Linked DNA regions of Homo sapiens. The protein of the gene in region 1 interacts with the protein of each later gene in a biochemical or structural test. Each region holds a gene or a part of one and is shown on either strand. Other genes may lie near its edges.

Evidence for each region. Proteins that work in one complex are often made in the same cells at the same time.
Region 2: of the proteins of PRKACB (region 1) and RYR2, one has a biochemical effect on the other in vitro, tested with the Homo sapiens proteins (one study listed by BioGRID).

The regions. Positions count from the first base shown.
Region 1 is NC_000001.11:84,182,218-84,185,839, forward strand, and holds part of PRKACB (cAMP-dependent protein kinase catalytic subunit beta), read left to right. Parts: coding exon 1-111; intron 112-1,819; coding exon 1,820-1,918; intron 1,919-2,882; coding exon 2,883-2,965; intron 2,966-3,622. UniProt on the Homo sapiens protein: Mediates cAMP-dependent signaling triggered by receptor binding to GPCRs.
Region 2 is NC_000001.11:237,045,172-237,048,793, reverse strand, and holds part of RYR2 (ryanodine receptor 2), read right to left. Parts: intron 1-3,622. UniProt on the Homo sapiens protein: Cytosolic calcium-activated calcium channel that mediates the release of Ca(2+) from the sarcoplasmic reticulum into the cytosol and thereby plays a key role in triggering cardiac muscle contraction. Aberrant channel activation can lead to cardiac arrhythmia.

The DNA of each region.
Region 1 (3,622 bases):
GATTTTGAAAGGAAAAAAACCCTTGGAACAGGTTCATTTGGAAGAGTCATGTTGGTAAAACACAAAGCCACTGAACAGTATTATGCCATGAAGATCTTAGATAAGCAGAAGGTGAGTGTATTTGTTGTTATTTACCTTCAGGGTAAACTTTAGTTTTATCAGCTAGACTATTAAACAGATTCAGTATAATGACTTACCATTGACAGCTTCAAATAATTTTATTATTAAATTTAATTTTTATTGTAACTAAATTTTTATTGTAACTATATTATACATAGTTAGTATACAGTCAGCCCTTCCATATCTATGGGTTCCACGTCCATGGATTTAACCAATCACAGATTGAAGATATTTGGGAAAAAAATTACATCTATACCTAACATGTACAGACTTTTGTTTCTTGTTATTATTCCCTAAACAATACAGTGTAACAACTATTTACATAGCATTTACAATATATCAGGTATTATAAGTAATCTAGAGATGATTTAAAGTATATGGACAGTGTGTATAGGCTTTATGCAAAGCCTCTGTCATTTTATATAAGGGACTTGAGCACCTGGGCATTTTGGTTTCTGCTGTAGGTCCTGGAACCAACCCCCAGGGATACTGATGGACAACTATAATTTATTGTGACAATTATGGACTAATTTGTTTTGTAACTATTACAGAAGTTAAAATGTGTACAGTAGTGATCCAACCACTTCATGTTACAAATTTTGAAAACCTGAGGCCCAAAGATTTGAAATCATCTCAAGTCAGAAAGTTAGTTAAATAAAAGGCCTAGATTAAAACACAAATCTGACTCCTACTCAATTTATTTGCTCAATATTATCAGTATACTCCTAATTTTATATATTAATACCTGGCTGGTATCTTTAATTACTTTTGTTATTTATATTTAACTTCTTGACTTCTGTGACTATCCTCACATTGACCATTAGACTCCAGCAAGAAAGAATGCCACCTTCTAATGATTTACACATATACAAGAAAATTATTTATATGTCTTGCTAAAGTCACCACTTCTTAAATTCAAAATAGAATCACATATGGAATAGAATCACAGTCTTCGTGAAGTCAAGATAAATTACTTTCCCCTTCTATTAAATAGAAAATCTAGAGGAAGCTTAAGTCTAAATGACCTAGGATACAAAGATAGTTTTTGTTATAAAGATAGTTTTTTCCCCAATATTTTGTGTGTCCTCTTCTATGGCAATATAAAATAAATTTTTAGAATTTATACCTATATTTATTTAGATATTATAAAATGAAAATTGTTCATTTTTACTCACTATTTTTCAGTTATGGACTTTCTCTTCATTTTTAATTTTCTTATTCATCTTCTGAAGTATTTAAAATCACTATCTACTTATTGCAGAGATTTGAGCCAGCTTTTATAGAGGACTTTAAGTCATTAGGACCTTAGTATTTTCACATTCATTTTTAAATTACCTTAAGTAATTATATATTTATTTAAGCATAATTGACATAACTAATTTTTAAAGTAATTTCTTATGAGTTTGTTTCTTATTCCTACTTAGCTCTCACTTCTTAATTGAAACCATAATTGACCTTCCTAAGACCAAGTTTTAAATCCTCTATTAGGTTTTCATTTGAATCCTATTATTAAAAGTAATGGCAAAAACCGCAATTACTTATGCACCAACCTAAAAGTTGGTAATTGTTATTATCTTCCTTATCCAATTCTAACAATTTTGCTTATCCAAGTTTATTACTATATGGAAAACATTTTTTTAAATGATAACTTTTTAATTTTGCTTAAATACATTAAGAGATATTTATCTCTCAATTACAGGTTGTTAAACTGAAGCAAATAGAGCATACTTTGAATGAGAAAAGAATATTACAGGCAGTGAATTTTCCTTTCCTTGTTCGACTGGAGTATGCTTTTAAGGTAAATTTTAGTAATATCTAAATAAGATATTTTCAACCTAAATTTTTTTTAAGATGAAACTATAAATGGATTCTAAACCAGATGATAAGCCTGAAGAATATGAATAAACAAAACGAATACCTCTAGAGTTTGTGTAATTAAATCCTATTGTGCTTATAACTTAGGTAACGTTTGAAAAGGTTTTGATTCTCCCTGGGGAAATTGTTCAAAGGTGATACTCATGAGATGGTATTACAAAAAGAAATATTTCAATTTATCAAAAACCATAGGGATATCTTAATAACAATTCTTATGCAAATTCATACACCCAACACATTTTCTACTTTGATTAAGCCCTTTTTGCCACTATCTCATCTTCTTTTACTTAGTAATTTGAGTTCTAGTCTTTTCACTTATACAAAGCAAAATTTTTGTTCCACTATTCAAATGTCTGAAAAATTGTACCACATTTATTATTTAAATTGGTCACTTTTGAGCTCTTTGGAATGATACTGGCATCTCTCTGCAATATTGAATCATATGAAACATTTTAATCTTTTTTCTCCTTTATTCTTTAAATTAAATGAAGACCTATGTATTTAAAATATTAAAACCATTAATCTTTTATACATAAAATGTAAATATTCTTATTAACTTTTTAAATTGTTTTTTACCTTTGTTATTCTTTTGCATATATTATAACGTTACTTCATTGCCTGAGTATTTAATTGTTTGAGAACTAGATGTTCTCTGCAAGAAAAGGAAGAGCAAAAGTCCCAGACTAGTTTGTGGCAAAAATAACTAGGAGGGGAAAAATATGAGTGTCTCTGTATAGAAAAGCTAGAGCATGTTCCATTTATTCTTTATTTCTCAAGGTTATTAATCTGTCAGAGAGATTTTAAATTTTTCTAATTCAGCATTATATAATATTAAAATAATTTTGACCTAAGTTGAATAATTGTATTTCCTTTTTATTTGTTCATAGGATAATTCTAATTTATACATGGTTATGGAATATGTCCCTGGGGGTGAAATGTTTTCACATCTAAGAAGAATTGGAAGGTTCAGGTAACTAATGGTTTTGCTTTCTTCAAATCTTTATATGCTTGTGTTGTTTAACCAGATTTTTAAGTTGATGCCAATGCCAAAAACTTATTTTGTTTGATTAATATTTTGGCCATATGAAGCATTAGGTGGAAACAAAGAGGCCACATCATACACAAGTTTTAATATAAAGAATATAAAAATTTAATATAAAAAAAGGACTTTGAAGCCAATTTAAATGTTATACTACTGCTAGATATTGTGAGGGTCCACTACTTGAAGAGTTTTCAGAAAATGGAAAAATTAATTGAATTTTAAAATATCAATATTTATTAAACAAAGATTAATAATACAACTCCAGGACAGAGGATTGTTTTAAGGATGAAGATGGAAAATAAATATATAGAGAAATAATAATAATAGTATTATGGTAATAAGATTATAAAAGTTTGTTTTTCACAAATTTAATTCTCCTTAAAGTTCTTGCTAAGTTTAGTTTTTAAAATATACACATAATTTAACGGGAGTTTGTACCTCATCAGGTTATGACTAATAAGATCTCAGAGTTATTAAAATAGGTTATAGAATCTGATGGTTTTACCTGTACTTAATAGTTTATAAGCTTCTACCGTTCATTAATAATCACTAATAGAATAAAGCTAAAATAAAAAACAGGTACAG
Region 2 (3,622 bases), about 150 Mb from region 1:
TGCACCAAGCATCATGGGAAACCGATGCCCAACACGGTCCCAACTCACCCACAGAGCATCAGGGTCAGAGCATTCTCTGACCATTGCTTGAGTTTCCCAATCAGTTCCATACATTTTATTAATTATTAGTGATAAATGGTCGGAGAAAGGTAAAATCGGAATTGGTTAGAGTGATCCAAGAAAACTCTGTGTAGGATGAAAAGCATAAGCAAGGTATCAAGGGGCAGATCATAAAAGGCCAAGTAGAGAAATTAGACAGGATATGCAAGGATGTGAGCTGAGGCTGGGAGATGGACACGAGGGTTTCAGGAGGACTAAAATGGCAGGCGGATTCTAGGTGGGTTGCCGATTTGTTGCAGGAGGAAGGATGACGAAGGTTGAAATGAGTACTGGGATCAGAACAAGAAGCTAACGGAGTATGAAACACATCGAAATCTGAGTTGGATTGCAAAGAGAAACACGATGGGCTATGATGACAAATTAGATGCAGAAGAGAAGAAAGAGAACTAGACAAATGCATTGAGCCACTCCCATGAGCCAGGCACTGTTGTTCTAAGTCCGTAAAGCTAGGTGCTGGTGGATTCCGGCCTCAGACTCAGGTCTTCTGAAGGTTAGGATCACACTGGAGCCACAGCCACAAACGGCAGTGCCACTGATCAGCAGAGACACTAGGAAGGAAAGTCGCTTAGGGAACCGAACAGGCAATGATGTCAAGCTGGTGTTTCTGGGGTCCGAGAGGCAAGAGGGAAGTCTAAACAGAGGCTTGAAGTGAAGGCCCAGGGCTGTCGAATCTACGGTGGGTTTCTCCTACAAAAAAGAGTCGCTTTGGGAACATTCCTTTCATCTCTCTGGCTCTCAGAGCTGGATGAAGTCATTGTTAAGTCTTTTCAGACTCTGTTATTCAAGAGATCCCAGATTTTGTGACATAGATAAGCTCATGAAGGCAGAAGAGCCAGAACAGGAAATAGGACAGAATCTTTTGGGATAACCACACACTTGGAGTAAAAGGAATGAAAAGCACCTGGAAAAAGCATGATCAGAAATGTAAAAAATTACCCAGAAGGTACCATGTCCCCAAAGTCAAAAGAGTAGCTTCAAAAAGGAAAGTCAGGGTAGTAGAGCTTGAGAAGGAATCTAAGGGAATAGGGACAGAGAGGGACATTTAGACGTGGCAAGGAGGGAGTTACTGGCAACATCCTGGAAAGTAAATTGAAGAAGGAAGAGAAGCTAGATAATTACATGGAGAGGGGTACAAGCAGTGGGAGAAGACCACTTCTGCAGGAGGGGAGCAACCAAATAAGGTATCCGGGTCAAAGACAGACATTTTAAGATGGGAGAAATTAACAGGCTTCAAGATAAACCAGAAGGAGTAAGTGGATAGGGAGGCAAAAAAAAAAAAAAAAAGGCTAGAAAGGATGGATTCCAATCTTGGCTTCCAGGACCAAGATTCAGGCCATGTGAGGGACTGTAACATTAGAAAAGACAAAAGAAACCTCCTTTTCACTGGCTGGAAGGACAAGAGGACAGATTTGGAGACAGAACTCTATGAAGGTCAAGTTAAGGATAAAATGGAAAAGTGGGTTTAAATCTACTCTATAAAGAATGATGTGCTGGTAAACCTCCTTTCTGGAAATTCTTCACAGATTTTCATATACTCTCCATTACTAAATGCCACTAACTTGGAGTGTGACACTGGGCCAAGTCATTTGGCTTTCTGAGCTTTTGTTTCCTTATCTGCAATATCAGAGAGGCATGGGGTGGACAGGGTAATGTTTTCTAAAGGCCTCTTCCTACCCTAATGTTTTGGAGTTTGTTTATGCATTTTTCCTTCTGATTGCTCCATGCCATCCTCTATATCTATTCTTTGCAATTACAGCTGCAAACCACTTCCCTACTTATTTGGAATACTTCCTTAACATGCTATGCATACAGACGGTGTTCAACAAATGTTTTCTGAATTAATCTAATTCCCACAATGTCAGAGTTTCAGGAAAAATGTGTGCTTCATCACCTCTCCCTCTCTCCCGAAAGCTATCTAAAGAAGCACAGTCACCCAGTGCTGCTGGAGTCCTTTCTTGGGTAATTCAGCCGTGATAAAAACACTTATCTGAAGCCAAAGTACAAATACAATTGAATGTCAAATAAATTAGTGCCCTAAGCGTTTTAGATCTTGCCCTTCCTGCCAATGTGTACATGCTAATTTCTAAGTTAAAATAAAATAAGTCTGATGATGTAAGCCTGGGTGGGCTTTCCATCAGTTCCTTGGGAAAATACCATAGTGCATATCTATCTAAAGCTCCTCGTAGCTTCATTATGAAGGGAGCAAAAAGTGCGAATTTCCACTGCTCATTCCATCTTTTCCTTTGTACTCTGTGACATTCCTACAGCTGAGAAAACTGACTTGGTATTCTTTTGCTATAAACCTAAAACATACTTGAACAGCAGATAAAGAAGCCTTTCTCTCCTGGAAAGAACACTATTAGCCTAAGATTTGAATTTTAGTCCTCGTTCTGCACTGCTGAGTACTGACTTCATACCATTAACCTTCCTGGACCTCTACAAACTAGGGCTAAGTATTCCCATCCAAACTACTATGCAGTGTTGTACACCAGCATCTATACTGCATAATTGTCACCATTTGTAGATGAGTATATTTAAAGATGCTTCTTGTCATTGTGGAACAAGATGTATGAACACTGAGAAGAAATCTATAATGAAATACTTCATTCTGCAAAAGAAGACAGGAGGAAGACCGTAAGCATTCCTATCAGGATCATTCTTACAGCCAGGACTAAGCTTTAAGTCTCAATCTATGGGTAAATACAAAACTACATGACACAGTACACCACAAGGGTAACTCAACTGTGCTTAGACAAATGAAAGAAAGACAAAGTACTCAAAAAAAAAAAAAAAAAAAAAAAAAACCTTGACCAAGGTCATTTTATACCATGGTTTTCCTAAAGTCAGAGGAATATCTTCTATAACATTCTGTATGATTGTTGGAAAAAAAAAAAAAAAGAGGACCATAACGAAAAAGATGCGTGTTTTTAAATGCCAAATGACAGTTTGATGCTACATTGGTAAGTTAATAAAATCTTTAAAATAAAACACACATTCCAAATCATGGATATGTTTGGATATGACAGTGAATGAATCCATTACAAGCTGACAGCTTATTTTATGATAGGATTTTTCTCTCATAAAATAAGTGTCCCAGCATATCCAGAGTTTACAAAAACATATTTTCAATCTCTCTCAAAGATAAACAGACCCAAGTGGGCAGGTTTCCAACAGATGGGGGAGCCACTGAATCAATGATCATTCATCTACATAACTATTTGGAAGGAATGTGAGCCAACTCGACAAGCAGCAGCAAATGGAACAGAGATGCCAGAGAGACAGGTACAAGCTAAACAGTGACAAACCCCTTTGCAAATGAGGAATTAATTTACAGCAGCATACATAACTCACAGATACAGCCCATTAAAGATTTCACCTCTACTTCCCTTAACAGTGATCTCACACCTCTTCTAAAAAAAGAAAAGCAAAAAAGCTTTCTGTGGACAGTGGTCAAAAAGATGCCTCAATGTGCTGGGGTGCTGAATACAAATCCAATAGACAA